Regions from separate parts of the Homo sapiens genome. Here all the other regions are linked to region 1. The links come from fine-mapping of genetic effects on gene expression. A gene starts in region 1. Each other region holds a variant in brackets. All regions are shown on one strand. Distances are between the middles of the regions.

What was found. PIP is the estimated chance that this variant, and not a neighbour inherited with it, causes the effect.
Region 2: its variant is fine-mapped to the expression of TTC19 in whole blood (INTERVAL, PIP above 0.99).
Region 3: its variant is fine-mapped to the expression of TTC19 in whole blood (INTERVAL, PIP above 0.99).

What each region holds. Positions count from the first base shown.
Region 1 is chr17:15,996,253-16,004,430 of GRCh38, forward strand. It overlaps TTC19 (tetratricopeptide repeat domain 19), which reads left to right and starts at 3,572. Exons shown (of 10, transcript NM_017775.4): 1 at 3,572-3,780; 2 at 3,866-3,993; 3 at 5,663-5,773; 4 at 6,541-6,579; 5 at 7,579-7,635; 6 at 7,949-8,010. The coding sequence starts at 3,597. ZSWIM7 (zinc finger SWIM-type containing 7) reads right to left here and starts at 3,452. Exons shown (of 5, transcript NM_001042697.2): 1 at 3,267-3,452. The coding sequence starts at 3,342. RefSeq lists silencers at 3,026-3,185, 3,536-3,925 and an enhancer at 3,326-3,415.
Region 2 is chr17:15,941,067-15,949,244 of GRCh38, forward strand. ADORA2B (adenosine A2b receptor) reads left to right here and starts at 4,064. Exons shown (of 2, transcript NM_000676.4): 1 at 4,064-4,517. The coding sequence starts at 4,183. RefSeq lists a silencer at 3,620-4,239 and an enhancer at 4,067-4,881. The variant G/T (reference allele first, on the strand shown) is at 3,487.
Region 3 is chr17:16,241,194-16,249,371 of GRCh38, forward strand. All of the region lies in intron 2 of PIGL (phosphatidylinositol glycan anchor biosynthesis class L), which reads left to right. Among named protein-coding and RNA genes, the nearest start is that of PIGL, 28 kb to the left of the region's middle. The variant A/T (reference allele first, on the strand shown) is at 4,627.

The DNA of each region.
Region 1 (8,178 bases):
AGATTGCACCATTGCACTCCAGCCTGGGCAACAAGAGCGAAACTCCGTCTCAAAAAAAACCCAAAAAAACAAAAAAACCCCACAACTTTTTCAGACATAAGCCTCAAACAGGGGCCGGTGTGGGGGCTCACAACTATAATCCCAGCACTTTGGGAGGCCAAGGCAGAAGGATCGCCTGAGCCCAGGAGTTCCAGAGTAGCCTGGGCAACAAAGGAAGACCCGTCTCTACAGAAAATAAAATAATCAGCTGGGCATGAGGTGTGATTGCGCAACTGTACTCTAGCCTGGGGAACAGAGTGAGACCCGGTCTCAAAAAATAGAAAAGAAAGCCTCAAAAGGTACATCTCATGCCCCCTTCTTCAGGAAGCTGGCAGAGTCTGTGTGCCATAATATAAGGTAGTAAGCCTGGGCAACACAGTGAAACCCCGTCTCTACAAACAATACAAAAACTAGCTGGGCATGGTGGTGCACACCTGTGGTACCAGTTACTCAGGAGGCTGAGACAAGAGGATCTCTTGAGCCTGGGAGGTTGAGGGAGCAGTGACCTATGATTGTGCCACTGCACTCCAGCCTGGGTGACAGAGCAAGACCTTGTCTCGAAAAAAAAAAAAAAAATTTTACATGGGCCGGGTGCGGTGGCTCATGCCTGTAATCCTGGCACTTTGGGAAGCCAAGGCAGGTGGACCTCTTGAGCTCCAGACTTCGAGTCCAGCCTAGGCAACATAGTGAGACCTTGTCTCTACAAAAAATACAAAAAACTAGCCAGCTGTGGTATTGTGTGCCTGCAGTCCCAGATACTCACTTGGGAGGCTGAGGTGGGAGGATCATCTGAGCCTAGGAGGTCAAAGCTACAGTGAGCTTTGATCATGCTATTGCACATCAGCCTGGGTGACAGACTGTCTCAAAAAAAAAAAAAAGAGGTAGTAAACTGAGAAAAAGAAAACTGTAGGATATACTAAACATAGGACCCAACAAAGATACAGAGAATTCCCAGATAATAATGGTTAAGAGAGATCTCAGCAAACAGCCGAGAGATCAGCCAGTCCATATTAAGCAAGTCCGAAGGCTCTAGAGATGTCTTCAGGAAGGTGAAACTGATAACATACTTCGTTCATCTGAACATCTTGAGGGGAGATTGAGAACACTAGTAAAGGATGTGAGGTTAAAGTAGGAATAAATATGTAAAAAACTAAATAAGCACATAAACAAAACCAAGATAGTTGTAACTCCAGGGAAATCCAAAAGTTACAAAGAAAACAAAAAGTAATCATAGCTTCCTACATGGTTCCACTGTGACTAGTTTATATATCATCATACAAATAAAACTTGGAATCTTGATCTAAAAAAATTACCACTGAAGAATGGGGGTTAGGAAGGGTGCATAACTATATATTAATAGAAAAAAGATTTTGAAAAAGACAGAAAACAGGGCTTCTGAAAATAAACATGAATCAACAGCATTGGTTCCTGTGTCTGAACCATGGGTGTCAGGGGCAATGATTATGCCCCCTTCAGGACTGTCAATGTGTCTTGTGAACCTTCTTGTTGGAGGGAAAAAACCCAAAACTGGCTGGGCACGGTGGCTCACGCCTGTAATCCCAGCATTTTGGGAGGCTGAGGTGTCCGTATCACAAGGTCAGGAGTTTGAGACCAGCCTGGCCAATATGGTGAAACCCCGTCTCTTCTAAAAATACACAAATTAGCCGGGTGTGGTGGCATGCGCCTGTAGTCACAGCTACTTGGGAGGCTGAGGCAGGAGAATCACTTGAACTTGGGAAGCGGAGGTTGCACTGAGCTGAGATCGCCCATTGCACTCCAGCCTGGGAGACAGAGCAAGACTCTGTCTAAAAAAAAAAAACAAACCAACCCAAACTACTGTCAGTGTATGGATTAACCTATTCAGACACAGAACAGTTCTGGCGATTATTGTTTAAAGTGACAGCATTCCAAACCCTCAGGCCATCAAATCTGAGAGCCCAGAACAATTGTATAAGCTAACATCAGTTGGCTTTTTTCCCATCCTTTTTGGAAACAAGTATGTTTGAATACTTGGCTGCACTAATCTTTCAAGCACATATACTTAAGTCTCCTTAATTTTGACTGAGATGAGGAAACAAAGTTGGCTTATTTTTCTCAGTTCCTTAAAAACAGTAACTCAAGATAAACCCTTTCAAAATGCAGTACAGTACTTTTAAAACAAAAGCCATCCAAGTTGAATAAGCGATGGCAGTTTGGGGGCCTGATATGGCTGTTATTTATAAGGTGGCCATTTTTACATCCTAAGAGTAGTTCATTAGTCAATGCATTTTGAGTATATCAAATTTGATTTGATCTTATCCTAGCATACTCTGAACACATCTTGAGATCAACCCTTCTCAAGTGATTTTGGTGAGCATAGCCAAAGAGTACCCTCTGCTGGTCAGAAAAAAAATGGTGCTTTCACAATACCCAGATTTACTCCAACGATTGCATATGCATTTAGGTTTTGTGGCTCTTAAAATGCTTTTTTTTTTTTTTTTGAGATGGAATTTCGCTCTTGTTGCCCAGGCTGGAGTGCAATGGCGCGATCTCGGCTCACGGCAACCTCCGCCTCCCGGGTTCAAGCGATTCTCCTGCCTCAGCCTCCTGAGTAGCTGGAATTACAGGCGCCCGCCACCACGCCCAGCTAATTTTTTGTATTTTTAGTAGAGACGAAGTTTCACCATGTTGGCCAGGCTGGTCTCGAACTCCTGACCTTAGGTAATCCAACTGCCTCGGCCTCCCAAAGTGCTGGGATTACGGGAGTGAGCCACTGCGCTGGGCCTACTTTTTAAAGTGTATGGAAGCATTAACTTTAATGTTAACATCAGAATTTGAGAAAAAGAAGTTTAATAATTCAAAATTTCGTGTAAAATAATCAAGAACTCCACGTTTCTATCACTCACTGTAGGCTCCCGTCCCTTCCACCCCCGGGCGGGGACCCCTCCCAGCGACCCGGCCAGCTCTCAGCACTTCGGTCCCCACTGGCCTACTCGCTCCGACGGAGGGGCTCCTGCAACTGCGCTGTACCGTAAATATTTGCTGAATCGATTTGACTTTTACTTGTTCCAATTTCGCTTTTTTGTTGTTTTGTTTTTTTGTCTTTTTACGAACAAGAGGTTTAGAGAACCACATGGAAAAAAGGCAGGGCCAGGCCCGGACACCCCGCCTCCTGCCTCCCGGCCCGGCGGTGCCCGGATGCCCCGCCCGCGCCCATGGCGCAGCCACACACGACCTCGGTCCCGTACTTCGCGCGCTCTCCTGCACCGCCGCCGCCATCTCGCTCAGGAGCTCCTCCACAACCGCCGGCAACACTACGGCCATCGCGCCGCAGGACACGCCCTCCACGACCGGCGGACCGCCGCGACGCTCCAGCTGACTGCGCCTACCTGTGGAGGATCCTGACCCCCCGCCGGGGCAGGGCGAGACGGAGTGACGTCGGGGCGCGTCATCGCGCGTGCGGACGCAGGGATGTCCTGCTCAGTCGTCAGGGCCCGGCCAATCCGGAGGGCGCTCGGCGCGTGGTCGGGGGCCAGGAGCGCGTCTGGCCTGCAGTGCGCAGAGGACGCGGCGGGAGCATGTTCCGGCTCCTGAGCTGGAGCCTGGGCCGAGGCTTCCTGCGGGCCGCGGGGCGGCGGTGCCGGGGCTGCTCCGCGCGCCTGCTCCCGGGGCTGGCAGGAGGTCCGGGGCCCGAGGTGCAGGTGCCGCCATCCCGAGTCGCGCCGCACGGCCGGGGCCCAGGCCTGCTGCCGCTGCTGGCAGGTGAGGGGCGCGGGCCGGGCGGGGCCGGCCGGGCGGGGACAGGGGCGCGGGCCGGGCCCGATGACCTCAGAGCCCCTTCCCGCAGCGCTCGCCTGGTTCTCGAGGCCCGCTGCGGCAGAGGAGGAGGAGCAGCAGGGAGCCGACGGGGCCGCTGCCGAGGACGGGGCGGACGAGGCCGAGGCAGAGATCATCCAGCTGCTGAAGCGAGCCAAGGTGAGGCGGCTCCGGGCCCTGCGCCCGGCCGAGCGCGGTAGCCTTTGTGAGCGGGGTCTTGGCGTTGCTGCGCATTACTCTCTCCGCCTCGCCGAAGAGTGGATGGAGGCTCCGCGGGTAAAATTGCCGAGAATGAGGTGGGTCATCCGAGAGGGGATTGGAATCCATCCAGGCTTTTCCGACTCTAAGGCCTGCAGTAAAACCTCTGCAGTGTCAAGTGCAAATGGAGATGGCGCCCTAGGCATCACGCTTTATGCAAACGAAATATCGGGAACGTTTTGTAGTGGTTTTATCAATTAACCAGCCTATCTGAAATGACATAATTTCGCACGTATATAGCGGCCTGAAAATGGCAACTTAGTGTTGGTTATGCGGTTCGGTTCTCCTCCTGAATTCTTCCTTTTCTCCACATCCTTTTCTATTTTTTTTTCCTCCTCTTTTCCCAAGTTATCTCATCTCTTCCATTGAGCTAAATACCTACTCGATGCCAACAACGTCCAAATTTGTATTTCCATTCTGTAGTGTGCTACTGACATGCCATTTGCACTTTAGGACCATACCTACCTCTCAGATTTAACATGCCCAAAACTAAACGATCTTTAATGCCTCCTCAACATACGCTTTCGCCATCTCTTTACTACCATCAGTTTTTCAGCCTAAAAACCTCATAGTCATTCTTAAAACTTGTGGTACCTTACCATTGCCTTCCAATACACTTACAGTCCAGCAACAAGTCCTGTTGCCAACAAATGCAAAATATTTCTCAAATCTTTCCCCTTTTGTCTATCTCCCTTGCTGTCACCCTAGTGCAAACCATCATTGCCACCAACTATGCTCCAGTAGTCTTTCCTGGCCTCCTGGCCTCTTGCAATCTATTCTCCATGCAGAAACCAAAGCGACCAAAAAAAAAAAGAGTAAATTGGATTATGTCATCTCCTTGTCAGAAAGCTCTGAATGGCTACCCACTGCATTTATGATAAAATACAAACTCCTTGCCTTGGCTTGCAACACCCCACATGATCTAAACCAGCATATACCTTGCCCACCCATTTGGCAGTAATCCTCTGGCTCACCATCCTCCCTTCACATCTATTTCTTTGCATTTCTTCCTCAAAACCATTCTCTTCAGCTTGTAGGGACTTCACTCATTCTCTACCCTCTGTTTGAGTCATTGTTCTCCCCAGGTCCTTATTTGGTTGACTCATTCTCATCCTTACTACCTCAGTTTAGCTGTCACTTCCTTGGAAGGCTTCCCTAAGTCCTATTTAGAGGAGACCCCTTATCATTCCTTTCTGTCATCTTTATAGCTCTTATCATTAGTTGTAATTAAGCTTACTTGTCCTATATGGTCACCTCCAGCCTGCAAGAAATTAGAAAGAGGATGGAGGACAAGCAGCTTCCTTATAAAATATGTTGTAAGATCACATTCCTTCTGCCTGTGTCTCTTGGCCAAAACTTCATCAGATGGCCACACCTAGCTGCAAGGGAGGCTGACCTCCCTGTCATCTCTGTAGACAATGCTTTGTACATAGTAGGAATTCAGTAAATGTCTGATGAATGAGTTAGCTTCCTTCTATCAGTTGGGATGTACAGTTGCATACACTTCTGTCTCTTAGCATATGCATCTACTATATGTTTCATTTTCTATTATTTTGTCTTCCCTTTTCAGTTGAGCATTATGAAAGATGAGCCAGAAGAGGCTGAGTTAATTTTGCATGACGCTCTTCGTCTCGCCTATCAGACTGATAACAAGAAGGCCATCACTTACACTTATGATTTGGTAACTCTTATAACCAGTCTGAACCACTGATGAGGAAGGTTGGATGGGAGGGAAGGGTAGTTAGTTCTTCTGATTTATATTCCTGACTTTCACGATGTTCTAAAACTCCTTTTCTTTTTACTGAGTTTTCTTTTGGCTTCAGTTTCATTTTTTGTTTTGTTTTGTTTTTTTGAGATGGAGCCTCACTCTGTTGCCCAGGCTGCAGTGCAGTGGCACAATCTTGGCTCACTGCAGCCTCCGCCTCATGAGTTCAGACGATTCTTTTGCCTCACCCTCCCGAGTAGCTGGATTACAGGCATGCATCACTATGCCTGGCTAAATTTTGTATTGTAGTAGAGACGAGGTTTCACCATATTGGCCAGGCTGGTCTCGAACTCCTGATCTCAGGTGATCCACCTGCCTTGGCCTCCCAAAGTGCTGAGATTTCAGGCATGAGCCACCACGCCCGGCCACAGCTTCAGTTTTTTTACCCTTGGGGTGACATAAGACCTCTCAATTCCAGACCAAAAAAAACCAGTATCATTAGCATGTTTTTTTAATGATGAGTGGACCTAGATTTGGTTTGTTAACAACAAAGTATGTGCAAGTATTTAATTCTCACATGATTGCTGTCCTGTGCTTCTTCTTGCAGATTAATTGGTGATGTGCTTTTCATTTTCAACTATTTTTTAAATTTTGAGGGTGAAAGCAAAAGGGAATTTTAAAGTTTTGAAATAAGTAGGAACACAGTATTCTAAACTGAAAAACAATTTGTAATTTGCTTTCAGATGGCCAACTTAGCATTTATACGGGGTCAGCTTGAAAATGTAAGTAAATTGCTTTGTAATATCTTGAATTTATGAAGGAGTAGCTTCAAGGGAACTGTAATAGTAAGAGTACAGGCTAAGCTGCTATAACAAAGAGACCCTAGAATATAGTGACTCAAACAAGATAAAAGTGTATTTCTCTTTATTGTGTTAGTCCAGAGATAGGCTAAAGACTGAAGGCAGACAGACATAGGCACCTTTGCTCTCTGATCCAGAAGTCCAGGTTTCTTCTAAGATAAGCCCTCCTCTGCCTAGGTGAGCTGACTCACCTCCAGTCTGCAGGAAGGGGGAGAAGATGGACTGTGAGCAGCTTCCTTATAAAACATGATTAGAAGTTCACGTTCTTTCTGCCTGCATCCCTTGGCCTAAATTTTATCATATGACCATATCTAACTTAAGGGTGTCCAATCTGCTAAAATTGACTGAATTTTTTTTTTAAGATAAGGTCTTGCTCTGTTGCCCAGGTTGGAGTGCGGTGGCTTAATCATGGCTGACTGCAACCTCGACCTGCCAGGCTCAGTTGATCCTCTCACCTCAGCCTCCTGAGTAGCTGGGATTCCAGGCGTGTGCCACAACACTTGGCTAATTTTCTTATTTATTTATTTATTTATTTATTTATTTATTGTAGAGACGGGATTTCACCATATTTCCCAGGCTAAATCGAGGGGACTCTGTAATCAAAAAGATGGAGAAGAGAATGACTATTAGGAGACAGTTTGTAGTCTCTGCCACAGTGGGTTTGGATAAGAACTTAATCTCTGAGGTTGTTTTCTACTCATCAGAGAGTAGTTTAAGGTACACAGAGGATGTTGAGGGTCCTGATATTTTGATCTGTTTTCGCTTCAAAAGGGTACTTTTCTGTGTGTGAGTGTGCGTGTGTGTGGGTATATGGGTTTTACAAGGAATGTTGCATCAGACTGGCACTTAGAATCCAGGGTCATATATATATATATAAAATGGGGCCCAATTAAAAGAAAAATCTTTTCCTTATGCTTTTAGGCTGAACAACTTTTTAAAGCAACAATGAGTTACCTCCTTGGAGGGGGCATGAAGCAGGTAAGGACATTGCCTAGTATTGGCCCCTCACTGAAGCAGTTTTCAAAACAGTCTTGTCTCCTGAAAACTCCTCCTAGCCCCACCACATGCTTTGGTCAGGAAAGGTGGAGTTTCCCTTCTGAGATCTCTATACAAATTGCCATTCTTTCACTAAATGCAACAGCATGCTTGCCAAGGAATTCACAGTTGGCTCATCACTCTAAAAGAATAAAGACTGTGGCTTTGAGGCCACCGTCAGTCTGGAAGTTGATCTGAAATATGCCATGAAAAAATTTACTTGTTATGAGTTCCCTTCATTCTCTTTCTCTCACAGGAGGACAATGCAATAATTGAAATTTCCCTAAAGCTGGCCAGTATCTATGCTGCGCAGAACAGGTAAGTACAGCAGCCAGGGAGTAGGACTGTGGGCAGGAAACTTTGACTCTGGGATGTTACATAATATTCATTGTCTACTGGTCATCTGGGTCTCCCAGAAATTGGGTGTCACACTCAAAGTGTTCCATCCCTCATCTTTGAAATTGTCAGTCTTTTTCCAGTTTGCCC
Region 2 (8,178 bases), 55 kb before region 1:
TGTGTACTAGCAGTCTGGAAGAGGTCCACGGAGGGTCAGTTTGTTCAGGAAGCATACCCTTCCACTTTCACCAGTGAAAGTCCCACTTGAGTTTCTAGGGCTCTAGTCCTAACCTAACCAGATGCTTTCATCACTGCAGTTGTTTTCCAGGAGTCAGGATCTAGAGGTAGTCAGATGGCAGATGGCTCCTCCTGCCCCTTTTTAGCCTGACCCTGTGAAGTAGATATTGTTATCCCATCTTATACATAAGAAATAGGGGCTTAGAAAGATTAATTGACTTGTCCAACATCAACAGCAGAGCTGGGAATCAAACCTGGAGTCTCTGTTGCTAAGACCTGGGCTCTGCTCCCTGCACACCAATTGCTTTCAAGACTAAACCAGCTGGGTGTAGTGGCTCACACTTGTAATCCCGGCACTTTGGGAGGCTGAGATGGGAGGATCGCTTGAGCCCAGGGGTTCAAGACCAGCCTGGGCAACATAGTGGGACACTGTCTCTACAAAAACATTACAAATTAACCAGGCATGGTGGTGTGCACCTGTAGTCCTAGCCACTTGGGAGGCTGGGGTGGGAGGATCACCTGAGCCCAGGAGGTTGAGGCTGCAGTAAGCTATGATCCCACCATGGTGCTACAGCTTCAGTGACAGAGTGAGACTCTTGTTTCAAAAAAAAAAAAAAAAAAGACTAAATGCCATGACTCTCTTCGGATTCCACCCTTCCTCCTCGTGTTTCCTGAATAATAACCTGTTAATAATAATTATTATAATATTTAATAATAATAATTGGCACCCCCATGGACCCAGTGAGTCCAGCTCAAATCCTAGCGTGGATCAGGGGTTGAAGGAGTCAGGAAAATGTATGATTCATTTCACAAAGACTTTGTGAAGAGGGGCGGGTTGTTGTGTGAGTCAGAGGGTACCAGGTGGGGCTGGGGTGGGGAGAGGACGGAGAAGGGAAAGCTTTGCTGGTGAGGGACACCGGGGACCTGAAACTCAGTGGACTGCAACACAGACGGGAACAGGGCACAGCCCTGTGCTGGAGACTTCCTACTTGGGTGCTATCGTTTGGAAATCTGTCCTCCCAAATCTCATGCTGAAATGTAATCCCCAGTGTTGGAGGTGGGGCCTAGTGGAAGCAGTGGAGCAGTTTCTGATGAATGGTTTAGTGCCATCCTTTTTAGTGCTGTCCTCATGATAGTGAGTGAGTTCTCACTAGATCCGGTTGTTAAAAAAGGTGTGGCACCTCCCCCCACCTCTTGCTCCTGCTTTCCCCATGTGACATGCCTGCTCCCACTTCACCCTCTGCCACTAGTAAAGCTCCCTGAGGCCCCTTGGAAGCCAAGCAGATGCTGGCACTATGGTTTACAGGCTGCAGAACTGTGAGCCAAATAAACCTCTTTTCTTTGTAAATTACCCAGTCTCAGATATTTCCCTATAGCAATGTAAGAATGGCCTAATACATTGGGTGATTCAGGGAAGGTTTCCTGATGGAGGTTGGGCTCTGAAAAGGGGAAATGGTGATTCTGGGCACAGGAAATGCTAGAGCAGAGCCCAGGCCCAGCAGCTGCAGGGCGTGCAGGAACCACTCATAGCAACCAGCCAGACACCGTTCGCCTCCTCTCCCTCTGCAAAATCTCCACTCACTCCTTTGGATATTGCTCTGACCATCCCCGCCCCGTCCTGTGACCTCTGCGGACTGGCATCCCAGCAGGATGGCCCAGCTCTCCAGCCTGGCAGCCAGAGCCTTCTCCACTAGGCCTTTTTCTCTTCACTCTCCTGGGCATGGCACCCCTGGGCAAACTCCTAACTACCACCTCTGCCTGGTATAGCTGGAACCACCCCACTGTGAAGCCTCCCTCACTCTGTAAAAGCCAGTACCCCAGGAAGCCTCCTCTAACCCTTTGCCCTCTGCCACTCCAAGGAAGTGCTATTGGAGGAGCTGCCTGATCTCTCTGGCCTTCTGTGTGGCAGCAGAAGTTTGTGTCAACTGCTGTGGGAACGTGATTGGTGGAGCAGGTGATTCCAGAACTCACGTGACCAGGACACGGAATGTGTGGGCTTGCCAATATTTTGATATATAAATCAACTGTTTTCATTATGGAAGTAACAAAACCTCAAGGGAAATAGAAAAAAAAATTCCCTGTAATCATCCCACCCAGCTAGGAGGTCTACTGTGTGTGTTTTTGACATTTTGCTGTCCTCGTTGGTGCAAGGGCAGATGTGACTGTTTATGCCTGTGGAGGGCAGAGGGGTTTTTCTTCTTCTTGTCTTTTTTTAGAGACAGGGTCTCCCTCTTTTGCCCAGCCTGGATGGAATGCAGTGGCATGATCCCAGCTCACTGCAGCCTCGAACCCCTGGCCTCAAAGGATCCTCCTGCCTCAGCCTCCCAAGTAGCTGGGACTACAGGCACCTGCCACCGTGCCTGGCTGATTTATTTTTTATTTGTTTGTTTAGAGATGGGGTCTCCCTACATTGGCCAGGCTGGTCTTGAACTCCTGGCCTCAAATGTTCCTCCTGTCTTGGCCTCCCAAAGTTTTGGGATTATAGGCGTGAGCCATGTTGTCGTCATTACAGCTACATTGAGATATAATTTATGTGCCACACAATGCATGCCTTTCAAGTGTACAGTTCAGTGGCATTGAGGTATATCCACAGAACCGTACAACCATCACCACATTGAGAAAATTTTTATCACCCTAAAAAATCCTTTACAAAATCCTTTACCCTTTAGCAGTCACCCCATGTTTTGATTTTTGCTTTACATGATTTTACAAGCATCTTTTCCTGTTGCTGGAAAATCTCCTTACCCATCCTCTTTGGTGACTGTCAGCAAAGGCTTTCGGGTGGTGAAATAGCGTGGCCAGGAGTGCTCTAGAACAATGGTGTTGGTGAGGGCTGCAGAAGCTGAGGACCCACAGGCAGAGAGGGAGGGATGGTAGAAGCAGGTGGTGAGGAGGGACTCGGGGCAGGACTTTGGGGGTAAAAGGAAGCAAGTCTCTGGAAGCAGAACCAGCAGCACTGCTGATCATTGGGACGTGGAGAAAGGCGAAGGCTCAGGGTGTCAGCAAACTTCCTAGGGTGGGTGAGGGTTGCCAGGTCAATAACGAACAGGGTCCCAGGAAAAGGCGGCAGCACAGGTTTGGGGAGAATTAGAGATGAGCTTGGTTTTGGTCTTGTTGGATTTGGGGGCACCAGTCTCTCTCCTGGCGAGAGTCGGCAGTGGGGTGTTAGGATCTGGCCCTCAGGAGGCTGTTAGGGCTGAAGCAAGAGATTTGGGAGTTAAGGGTGTGAGGGCCACGTGGGAGGCCTCGGGAGCCTGTGCCGATCCAGGGTGAGTGTGAAGGAAAGAAAAAAGAGGGCCCGGGGAACACTGGTATTTTCGGGCGGTGGACGAGGATGGGACGGCCACGAGCTTGTCTTAAGGTAGAAGGCAGAGCGGGGCCGTAGGGGCAGTGGCGCGGGCGAGGGTGGAGAACAGCGCTGAGCCTC[G/T]CTGGGAGGCGGCCGGAGGGGGCTGCAGCCCCCGAGGGCTCCTTGCAGTCCGGCCCCGCAGCCTGGAGACAGCTCCGGTGGTGCTGCGCTGCCCGAGACTGCTGCACGAGCGGGGACTGCGGCCTCGGCTCCCTGCCTGCCCGGCAGCCCCCCATCCAGTCGGCCTGCCCGGGGTGCGCAGGGTTAGCCTGGAGTGAGCTCGCCCCGCCCGGGGTTGCGCGGCCCTGGGGGGTCCTCTCGCGGCGGCTCCTGGGACCTGCTGGCGCCCCGGGCAGAGCCCGGCCCCATCCCAGGAGTCGCCCGGACTGGAAGGCAGTGCGAGCACTGGGACACAGCCTCCGAGCTCGAGCGTGACGGGAAGTTGGGGCAATTTGTTAGTTATCCGCCGCCACCAAGACGCGGCACGGCGCCTGGACCGGAGGGGCCCCGCGCGGGCGCGAACTTTGGGCTCGGGCGAGTGGGTGGTGCTCCGCCCAGCCCGAGACGGGCGGGCGCGCGGGCCAATGGGTGCCGCCTCTTGGCCGCGGGGGGCCCCGACCCGTGGGTCCCGGCCACCAGCGCCCCAGCCCCGAGGCTCAGAAGCGGCAGGCGGAGGCGCGGTCCGGGCGCTATGGCCATGCCCGGCGGGTCTCACGCGGCTGCCCCTCGCCCGGCGCGCCTTCGGTAGGGGGCGCCCGGGGCCCAGCTGGCCCGGCCATGCTGCTGGAGACACAGGACGCGCTGTACGTGGCGCTGGAGCTGGTCATCGCCGCGCTTTCGGTGGCGGGCAACGTGCTGGTGTGCGCCGCGGTGGGCACGGCGAACACTCTGCAGACGCCCACCAACTACTTCCTGGTGTCCCTGGCTGCGGCCGACGTGGCCGTGGGGCTCTTCGCCATCCCCTTTGCCATCACCATCAGCCTGGGCTTCTGCACTGACTTCTACGGCTGCCTCTTCCTCGCCTGCTTCGTGCTGGTGCTCACGCAGAGCTCCATCTTCAGCCTTCTGGCCGTGGCAGTCGACAGATACCTGGCCATCTGTGTCCCGCTCAGGTGAGGCGCTCGGCGTCGCCCGAACTCGGGGCCCCGTCGGAGCTCCGAAATGGGTCGTCTTCTCCAGGCCGGGGTTCCTCCCTCGGGGGCCCCAGACGGGCCAGGCTGGGGGCGCGCGGGGCGCTTGGAGGGCTGGTTCCCAGCCTGGCCACCCCGCAACGCTAGACCAGTGCGCCCGGGCACCCAAGACATCCCAGATGCGCGTCGCTCTAAGGAGATCTGCGTAGGGACAGCTCTAGGGGGTCCGGGGAGTGCGGTCCCCGGCGCCCGGGGAGGCGCCGTGGAAACCCCGGGGAAAGCGTCACCCCCGGGGAAAGCGTCACCCCCGTGGGCGGGTGGAGCCCGGGGCGCGGGAGTTTTGGTGATCACATCTCCACTCCTGCCACGAAGGCCGTTCCTAACACTCGCCCGCAGCGGCGGTGCAGCGGCAGTCCCGTGAGTGCTGCGGCTCCCGGAGGCCCGGGAGGTTCCCACTAAGGGCAAGGCAACTTTGGACGCTGGGCATTCGCACCGTCAGAATGGACACGCATGAGCCAGCTTCAGAACGTGTCTGCTGCGGAGAGGCGGCCCGGCCCATCCCAGGGGAAGGTGTCCGTTAACTTTGGGGAACGCTACGGACTCAGATTATATACTTTTAAAAGGAGTTACAATGCTTCCTCGTGTCTGGCAAACGGCCTTACAGCCTCACTGCCCTTGTGTAACTATTTATCTCCTGCTGCCCTGTTGGGAGCGGGCTGAGAAGTGCAGAAAATGGTGGCGAACTTACTTGTCCACTCTTTCTCCCACACTGAGAAAATCTAGGATTCAGGGGATGGAGTCAGCCAGCGACCAGAGTGGATTCCCAGTTGGAGCTGATGACTTCAACATTGAGAGTTTGTTGAAAGTATTTATTCTCTGTCTTTGGTGCCTGGGCCACTTTGGCATTTCTGAGGAGAGCTTGAGATCTCTTTAAATTTGGAGCTGAGACAGGGAAACTAAATCACAGAGTAGGAAGGAAGGGAAGGAATTCATTTATTGGGTGCCAACTCTGTGCAGACAGTTTATAATAAACGTGTCCCCAGCAGTCCTTGCAGTAGTACCAGAGGACGGGTGCTGTAACCTTCATCTCGTAGAGGAGGGGTGATGGCCCAGGGAGGTTGGAGTCTTGCCCAGGATGGTGTATCAGGGATGGGTGTCAGAGCCGGGGCTTGAACTCACAGCTGGCACCGTGTCCCCACCCATGCCATCAGGCCACTCTGCAAGGCCATGTGTGGCACCGTGTTTAGGAGTCAGGGAGAAAAGTGCTCTGCTGTTTTGGGAGGAGGAGCCTGCCTGCAGTAAACTGGTGGTTGTAGGGGAATGTGTTTGTGGGAATGGAGCCGGAGAATGCTCCCAGAGGCCATTTGAGTAGGCAGATGTGTTGGGCCTGGTCCTTGCAGGTTGTTTCGTGGGTCCCAGCAGGAACAGGAGCCTCCTGCTTGGGAGGGCTGTGAGCCTTATGTGGGTGTCTGGCCACTCCATGTGCTGCTGCCCGTGCTGTTGGACCAGGAGGCCTTATGTCTCCCATCAGGTGTGACAGCCCAGGGATTTCCAAGGCTTAGGGAGGACAGCAGTTTCTTCTCTCTCTTCTGGATCCCTTCCCTGCCTTTTGGTGTCATCGTTGTTACTTGATGGCATTTTGGATGTTTTGCATCCAGCAGAGCAGTCACAAGCCCCAGCCTGAGTTGTCCATCTAATGGAAACCCCTTGGACTTGCCCTGGCAGAGACCAGAGACCCAGAGAGGAGTTAGTGGAACAATCTCCCAGGCCACAGGGAGCAGGAAGTTCCATGAAAGTTTAAATCTGTTCCTTCTTGTCCTGGTTTGTGCTGGGTGAGGTCTTGAAAAAAATGGGTGTGGGTGTGTTAAGGGGAAAGTGCTGTGAATCACAGGCCCTGAGCTTCTTTGCATTGCCAAGGGCAGGAGGGAAGAACACTGAGGCTCGCCCCATCCTGCCTTCCTGGCCCGTCCAGAGCTTGGAGGTCTGGAAGAGGTGCACAGGCAGTCCCCAGCTCCCTGCCCCAGAGTTAGTCGTCTGACCTGGCCACAGCACCACCCCAACCCTGGTGGGTGGGAGAGGTGTACTAGGGCCCCCAGGGCTTCCCTCTCAGGGGCTGGTGCCTGGGGCAGGCCTTCCCTCAGCTGGCCTAGCAGTTCATGGCCCCTTGGGAAGAGGTTAAAATACAGATTACAGGGCCTCACCTGGTTGTACTGAATCAGAATCTCTGGAGTGGGTGTCGAGGGGATTCCAGCAGTGGGATCTTTAACCAGGGACATTTGGGTCCAGCGATCTAAGAATCCTCCTAGATTCAGGGCCTGAAGCTTTCCTCACTTGACTGACACAGGCTGGGTGCATGGCGCCCCAAGCACTGACTTGGCCCTGAGGCCTTCCTGGGGTTGTGGAACTCCAGGTGAGAGTAAAGTTGGAAGTGCCCTGTTTGGGAGGAGGTGTGTCCCCTTTGAAGCCAAGCAATAAGGAGGGTGAGGTGCAGGGAGTGAGGGCTAAAGGCTTAGGCTAGGACAGTCCTGGGACCTACCCCCAGTTCCTCCCGGTTCGAGGGCTCCAAGTGTGAGGCCTGTGGCCGCAGAGACCACAGCCCCCACCTGCCACCGCATTGCCAAGGTGTTTACTGATGTGACAGATGACAGTGTAGAAGGGAGGGGAGCCGGAGGGAATGCCAGGGACAAATATGACGCCCTTGGCCTGGCCCTTTGCCTTCAGGACAGGGCTGGCCACAAACAGAAGTCCATTGCCTCTGGTTCAAGTCCATAGACAATTCCTGATGTTGGGCCCTGGCGGCGGGGGGCTCCAGTCCCCAGTGGTGCCGACGGGAGTGGGCGTGTAGCTCCTGGGCTGGGGGAGGTGGACGTGTACAGGCAGGAGGGTGTGGGCCATGCCCAAAGCTGCTCCCAGCTCTCACTTCACCCTCAGGCAGGAGCACTTCCTCCTCCCTGCTTGAATCCTGTTCCTTTCATGCCACACCCACTGTGGGGGTCTTCGCTGCTTGTAGACCCAGTTTCCCTGGCCCTGTGGCATTGAGTCTCTGGCAGGGCTGAGGCCAGCTGTTTTCCTAGTGGAGCTGAAAGAGGGTGGATCCGGGAGGGTTTAGTTGGCCGAATGGGTCCAGTGCCGTGTATCTGACCTGTCCCTGGACCCTGCCCAGTCACCCTCTCTGCTCTTGCCACATTGAGGCTTTTCTCTGTGCCTCACGTATCTGGTCTTTGAGGTAGGGATTAAAGACCTCTTAGCAAGACTTTGTGCTTAGGGTAGGAGTTGGCGGGGGGTTCTGAATGTTTTTCAAAACTTAAAAAAATTGAGCTATAGGGCCGGGCACGGTGGCTCACGCCTGTAATCCCAGCACTTTGGGAGGCTGAAGAGGGTGGATCACCTGAGGTCAGGAGCTCGAGACCAGCTTGGCCAACATGGTGAAACCCTGTCTCTACTGAAAATATAAAAATTAGCTGGGTGTGGTGGTGGGTGCCTGTAATCCCAGCTACTTGAGAGGCTGAGGCAGGAGAATCGCTTGAACCCGGGAGGCAGAGGTTGCAGTGAGCCAAGATCACGCCATTGCACTCCACCTTGGGCAACAAGAGCAAAACTCTGCCTCAAAAAAAAAAAATTGAGCTATAGTCCAGGCACAGTG
Region 3 (8,178 bases), 240 kb after region 1:
TATCTAGGTGGATAAAGATTAGCGAGGGTAGTTTGCAAAGGAGGAGAATTGGGTATGAAGAGATAATAAATTAGGCATCTTTAGCATATGGGAGGATGAAAGTCTTTGGGGTGGGCTGGGTGCAGTGGCTCAGGCCTGTAATTCCAGCACTTTGGGAGGCTGAGGTGGGCGGATCACCTGAGGTCAGGAGTTTGAGACCAGCCTGACCAACGTGGAGAAACCCCATCTCTACTAAAAATACAAAATTAGCCGTGTGTGGTGGTGCATGGAGGCTGAGGCAGGAGAATCACTTGAACCTGGGAGGAGGACGGTGCAGTGAGCCGAGATCACACCACTGCACTCCAGAATGGGCAACAAGAGTGAAACTCTGTCTTAAAAAAAAAAAAGAAAATCTTTGGGGTGAATGAAATTGCCCATGGATTAACTGGAGTGATAAGAACTGGGGATCAGTTAGAGGAAAATAAAACCACAAACTATAATGAGGAGAATTGGAAGCATTGAGATGTAAGGTGGGAATACTTGAGAAAATTATAAGGAAAATGAGAATTATCTGCTCAGTATTAAACAAAATTAGCATCAAATGGTATAAGAAATTTGGTACCCTGCTTTTTTTACTAGAGAGTATTTTTAGCATTTTTCTATGTCATTAAATAATCATTAAAAGTCTTTAATGATTGTAAAGATTTAATCGTGAAGATGTACCATAACATTTAACATTCTCCTACTATTGAATATTTAAATCTTTCTAATATTTAAGCACTTACAATTTTTTTAGCAAATCTCTTTGAAGTTCTGACTCTTTCCATAAATGAATTTCTAGATATTGAATTACTGGGTCAGAGTATAGGACTTTTTCTTTGGGGTTTTTTTTTGTTTGTTTTTGGAGACAAGGTCTCTGCCATCAGGCTAAAGTGCAATGACATGATCCTGTCTCACTGCAAACTCTAACTTCTGGGCTCAAGCAATCTTCCCACCTCAGCCTCCTAAGTAGCTAGGACTACAGGTGTGCACCACCATGCCCAGCTAATTTTAAAAATTATTTTAGATCCAGAGTCTTGCCATGTCACCCAGGCTGGTCTCCAACCCTTGGGCTCAAGTGATCTGCCTCAGCTTCCCAAAGTGCTGATATTACAGCATGAGCCACCATTCCCAGTCTATATAGAACTTTTTATAGTTTTCTTCATCTAGGTACTAAACAATTCTTGTTAAAGTTATTTTGATTCTTTTTTATTATTATTGCTGTGAAAAAGATTTTTTGGTTAAGAATTTACTGCTAGTATGTAGCTTTATTGATTTTTTAATGTATTTATTTTATATTCATCACTTTGAAACTTCTGTAAAAAGCCTACCAGTTTTAACTTGATTCCCTAAAGTTTTGTAGGTAAATCATCTGCAAATAATGCTAATACAATCTTTCATGTTTTCAACATATGCCTCTTATTTCTGATTCCTTTTTTTTTTTTTTTTTTTTTTTTTTTGAGACAGAGTCTCGCTTGTAACACAATCTCTGCCTCCTGGGTTCAAGTGATTCTTCTGTCTCAGCCTCCTGAGTAGCTGAGATTACAGGCATACACCACCATACCCGGCTAATTTTTTGTTTTTTTAGTAAAGATGGGGTTTCACCATGTTGGTCAGGCTGGTCTTGAACTCCTGACCACAAATGGTCCACTTCCCAAAGTGCTGGGATTACAGGCATGAGCCACTGCGCTCAGCCCTGATCCATTTCTTATTTCTTTGAGTGGATTTCCTTAATCTATGTTAAACAAAAAAGGGAAAGCAGGCAACTTTATCCGTATTTATGATTTGATTGACAACATATCCAGTGTTTAACCATTAACTGTGTTGTTACTGGTGTGTGTTTGTTTGTTTGTTTATGAGACGGAGTCTTGCTCTGTTACCCAGGCTGGAATGCAGTGGTGCAATCTTGGCTCACAGCAACCTCCACCTCTCGGGTTCAAGCAATTCTCCTGCCTCAGCCTCCCAAGTAGCTAGGATCACAGGCGTGTGCCACCCACCCAGCTAATTTTTATATTTTTAGTAGAGATAGGGTTTCACCATGTTGGCCAGGCTGGTCTCGAACTGCTGACCTCAGGGGATCCACCTGCCTCGAACTCCCAAAGTGTTGGGATTACAGGCGTGAGCCACCGTTTCTGGCCTGCTGATTATTCTTTATAATATTAGGCATTGGTGGGAATTGATGTTCACTGTATTTGATTTGGGGTGGGGATCCCATTCATTTCAGTATGCTACAAAGAGATGAAGGAAAAAGTTTAGATTTATTCTTGATCTTACTTGCTTCATGGTAAACTACTGGGGTCACCACGGGAGAATTTCTTCTGTTTATACCAGTGGATTTATAGAGCCAGACTGCCCAGACTGAAACCCAAGTTTAAAGTTTTTAATTGCGTAACCTAGGCAAGTTACTGAATTCTGTTCCTAAATTTCTTCCTCCGTAAACCTCGAAAGATACATGGTTTTGAGTTAATTTGTGAAAGGAGTTATGGGTTCCTTTGTTTTCAAAGATGATATCCCACCCTCTTACTCTGTGAGTGTTGTGATTTGTTTTTTCACATTAATATTGTAACCGCCCAAGGGGTTCACCTTGCCCACTGCCTAGACAGAGCCAATTTATCCAGATGGAGAGCTGCAATGGTGAAAGAGTAATTCACGCAGAGCTGCGGGAGACCAGAGTTTTACTGTTACTCAAATCTGTCTCCCTGAGCATTCAGGCAGCAGAGTTTTTAAGCATAATGTGGTGGGTGGGGCGAAGCCAGTGAGCTGATTGGTCAGAGACGAAATCATGGGGAGTCGAAGGTCTCTTCTTGGGCTGAGTCAGTTCCTGGGTGGGGGACTACAAGATCAGATGAGCCAGTTTATTGATCTGGGTGATCCATCAAGTGCAGGGTCTGCAAAATATCTCAAGCACTGATCTTAGCAGTTTAGGGAGGGTTAGAATCTTGTGTCCTCCAGCTGCATGACTCCTAAACCATAATTTATAATCTTGGGCCTAACTCGTTAGTCCTACAAAGGCAATCTAGTCCCCAGGCAAGGAGGTCTGCTTTGGGAAAGGGCTGTTACCGTCTTTGTTTAAACTATGATCTATAAATTAAGTTTCTCCCAAAGTTAGTTCATCCTATGCCCAGGAATGAACAAGGACAGCTTGGAGGTTAGAAGCAAGATGGAGTCAGTTAAGTTAGATCTCTTTCACTGTCTCAGTCATAATTTTGCAAAGGCAATTTCAATATTAGTAATCGTGTTTTTTCTCAGGCACTCCATTTGCACAATGTCCTGCCTGTGCAGTGTCTGCTTTGGCCCAGTAATGCAAATGTTTTCGGGGACAAATCTGTTTTGGAGATCTTGGTTATTAAGATCTTTACTCTGATAGAAAGCAATGTGCATTCAGTACACTCCTCAACTTGGGATGGGGTTACATTTGGATAAACACCTCCTAAGTTGAAGGTATAAAGCGGGGAGTTTTTGGTTTTTGTTTTTTGCTTTTGAGACAGGGTCTCACTCTGTCACCCAGGTTAGAGTGCAGTGGCAGGATCATGGCTTACTGCAGCCTCCACCTCCCGGGCTCAAGTGACCCTCCTGCCTCAGTCTCCCGAGTAGCTGGGACTACAGGCACACGTCACCACATCTAGCTAATTTTTTTGGTAATTATTTTAGAGACAGGGTTTTGCCACGTTGCATAGGCTGGTTTTGAGCTCCTGAGCTCAAGCAACCCACCCACCTCAGCCTTCCAAAGTGCTGGGATTACAGGTGTGAGCCATCACACCCAGACTAGAGTGTGTTTTTTGTTGTTCTTGTTTTTTTGAGACGGAGTTTCGCTCTTGTTGCCCAGGCTGGAGTGTAATGGTGCAATCTCGGCTCACTGCAACCTCCACCTCCTGGATTCAAGCAATTTTCCTGCCTCAGCCTCCCAGGAAGCTAGGATTACAGGTGCCCACCACCACGCCCAGCTAATTTTTGTATTTTTAGTAGAGACGAGGTTTCACCACATTGGCCAGGATGGTCTCAATCTCTTGACCTCGTGATCCACCCGCCTCGGCCTCTCAAGAAGCTGGGATTACAGGCGCCTGCCACTATGCCCAGCTAAATTTTTGTATTTTTAGTAGAGACGGGATTTTGCCGTGTTGGCCAGGCTGGTCTTGAAGTCCTGAACTCAGATGATCCACCTGCCTCGGCCTTCCAAAGTGCTGGGATTACAAGCATGAGCCACTACACCCGGCCTAGAGTGTGTTTTTTACTTATGATATTTTCAGTTTAGGATGGGTTTATTGGGACGTAGCCAGATTGTAAGCCAGGGAGTATATATATATATATATATTTGAGACGGAGTCTTGCTCTATCGCCAGGCTGGAGTGCAGTGGCTAATTTTTTGTATTTTTAGTAGAGACGGGGTTTCACCATGTTGGGCAGGATGGTCTCGATCTCTTGACCTCATGATCTGCCCGCCTCAGCCCTCCAAAATGCTGAGATTACAGGTGTGAGCCACTATGCCTGGCCTATATATATATACACACATATATATATACACACACACATATATATACACACACATATATATATACATACACACACACATATATATATATATACACACACACACATATATATATATAT[A/T]TTTTTTTTTGAGACGGAGTCTCGGAGTCTCCCTCTGTCACCCAGGCTGGAGTGCAGTGGCACAATCTCAGCTCGCTTCAAGCTCTGCCTCCTGGGTTCACACCATTCTCCCACCTCAGCCTCCCAAGTAGCTGGGACTACAGGCACCCGCCACCTTGACCAGCTATTTTTATTTTTGTGTTTTTAGTAGAGACGGGGTTTCACCATGTTAGCCAGGATGGTCTTGATCTACTGACCTTGTGATCCACCCGCCTCGGCCTCCCAAAGTGCTGGGATTACAGGCGTGAGCCACTGCGCCCGGTCATGGCACCTATATTTTTTATATATCACATGAAGACCATGTAGCTTCAGCATCACTCCCCTACTCGTGAAATGCTATAGTAGAGGGATAGTAAGCCTATTAAAAGTAAGTACTTCAGGCCGGGTGCGGTGGCTCACACCTGTAATCCCAGCACTTTGGGAGGCAGGTGGATCACGAGGTCAAGAGATCGAGACCATCCTGGCCAACACGGTGAAACCCCGTCTCTACTAAAAATACAAAAATTAGCTGGGCATGGTGGTGCACACCTGTAGTCCCAGCTACTTGGGAGGCTGACGCAGGAGAATCGCTTGAACCCGGGAAGCGGAGGTTGCACTGAGCCGAGATTGCACCACTGCACTCTAGCCTGGCAACAGAGTGAGACTCCGTCTCAAAAAAAAAAAGTAAATACTTAAAGAAGCCAGTTTGAAGATTCAAGAAAAATGCATCTTAGTCTGCTTGGGCTCCCTTAACAAAATACCGTAGACAGTGTGGCTTAAACAATAGAAATTTATTTTCCCACATTTCTGCAGGCTAGAAGTCCAGATCAAGGTCTTTTTTTTTTTTTTTTTTTTTTTTGAGACGGAGTCTCGCTCTGTCGCCCAGGCCGGACTGCGGACTGCAGTGGCGCAATCTCGGCTCACTGCAAGCTCTGCTTCCCGGGTTCACGCCATTCTCCTGCCTCAGCCTCCCGAGTAGCTGGGACTACAGGCGCCCGCCACCGCGCCCGGCTAATTTTTTTTGTATTTTTTTAGTAGAGACGGGGTTTCACCTTGTTAGCCAGGATGGTCTCGATCTCCTGACCTCATGATCCACCCGCCTCGGCCTCCCAAAGTGCTGGGATTACAGGCGTGAGCCACCGCGCCCGGCCCAGATCAAGGTCTTGCAGGGTCACTTTCTTATGAGGACTCTCTTCCTGGCTTGCAGATGACCTTCTCGCTATGTTCTCACATGCTGGAAAGAGATTCTCTCACTCTCTCCTTCTTCCCTCCCTCTTCTTAAAAGGCTACAAGTTTTATTGGATTAAAGCCCCACTCGTATGACCTCATGTGATCTTAGTTACCTCCTAAAACCCTATCTCAAAATAGTTACAATTAGTGGTTAGGGCTTCAGCACATGAATTTGTTGAGGACACTATTCAGTTCATAGTATTCCATCCCAGACTCCCACATTCATGTCCTTATTTCATGCAAAATACATTCATCCCATCCTAACAGCCTCCAAAGTCTTAACTCATTCCAGCATTAACTCGAAAGTCCAAAGTCTCATCTAAATAGCCTCACCAGCTGTGAACCTGTGAAAACAGACAAGTTATATATTTACAAAATATAAGGAATGGAGAGGCATAGGATAGATATTTTCATTCCAAAAGGGAGAAATGGGTGACAGGCCCCAGGCAAGGCCAAAACCTAGGAAGGTAAACTCCATTAGATCTTGAGGCTTGAGAACAATCCTCTTTGGGCGGATATTCGGCCCTCCAAGCCCTCTGGAGCCTGTGGTGGGAATGGTAGTCCTTCTGATCTCTGGATAACTTTTGAGGTCATTCTTCCCTTTTCTTGAAGGACGACGCATGTTTGCAGCCAGATAGCTCTGTTGTCTGGTCCTGTAGACTCTTAAGTCCAGCAGGCTTCTTTCGTCCCACCCGATTTTTTCTTTCTCCTGGCTGTTATTGAGGTGGTTGATTACATGTGTGGTTCACACCCATGCTAATCACCTCATCAAATGGTTGTTCAGTCACACCAGAGTGCTCTCTTCAGAACAAGCTTTCTCTCTTTTTTTTTTCTTTTGGAGATGGAGTCTCACTCTGTCGCCCAGGCTGGAGTACAGTGGCACGATCTCAGCTCACTGCAACCTCTGCCTCCTGGGTTCAAGCGATTCTCCTGCCTCAGCCTCCCAAGTAGCCGGGATTACAGGCGCGCACCACCACACCTGGCTAATTTTTGTGTTTTTAGTAGAGACGGGGTTTCAGCATGTTGGTCAGGCTGGTCCTGAACTCCTGACCTCGTGATCCACCAGCCTTGGCCTCCCAAAGTGCTGGGATTACAGGCTTGAGCCACTGCGCCCAGCCTCAAGCTTTCTCATTTTTTTACAATATGGACAGGCTGAAAATTTTCCAAAACCTTTACGTTCTGGTTCCTTTTAAACGTAGCAATTTCTTCTTTATCTCTCAACTCTTACATTTTACTATAAACAGTCAAGAGGACCCAGGCCACACCTTCAAAATTTTACTTAGAATTCGCCTCAGCTAAATATCTAATTTCATCCTTCAGAAGTTCTATCTTCCACAAAACACTAGAACACAATACAGGCAGGTTCTTTGCTTCTTTATAATAGTGATCACCTTTTCTCCATTTTCCAATGTCTTATCTCATTTTTCTCTGAGACCCCATCAGAATGGCCTTAAAGACCATATTTCCACTGACATTCTGTTCATGATTGTTTATGTATTCTCTGAGAAGATGGAGGTTTTCTCTCCAGTCTCCTTTTCCTTTCCTGAGTCCTCACCAGAATCACCTTTAATGTCCATATTTCTACCAACCATTCCTTCCTGGCAGTCTAGGATTTTTCTAGCATTCACCTCAAAACTCCTCCAACCTCTACCCATTATCTAGTTCCAAAGCCACTTGCACATTTTTATGTATCTGTTACTTCACAGTACTAAAATCTGTCTTAGTCAGCTTGGGCTGCCAAAACAAAATACCATAGACTGGGTGGCTTAAACAACACAAATTTATTTTCTCAGAGTCCTGCAGACTAGAAGTCCCAGATCAAGGTCTGGCAGGGTTGGTTTCTGGTAAGGGTCCTCAGCCTGACTTGCACATGGCTGCCTTCTCACTGTGCCTCATGTGGTGGAGGGACAGAGGGAGACAGATCTCTTCCTTTTCTTATAGCACCACCAGTTCTATCAGATTAGGGCCCCACATTTATGGATTTATATAACCTCAATTGCAGTAGTCCTCCCTTATCCACAGTTTTGCTTTCTGTGGTTTCGGTTACCTGCAGTCAACTGTGGTCTAAAAATATTAAATGGAAATTCCAGAAATAAACAATTTATACATTTAAAATGTACACCATTCTGGCTGGGCACAGTGCACTCACGCCTGTAATCCCAGCAATTTGGGAGGCCGAGGCAGGTGGATCACCTGAGGTCAGGAGTTCAAGACCAGCCTGGTCAACATGGTGAAACCCTGTCTCTACTAAAAATACAAAAATTAGCTGGGCATGGTGGCGCACGCCTGTAGTCCCAGCTACTC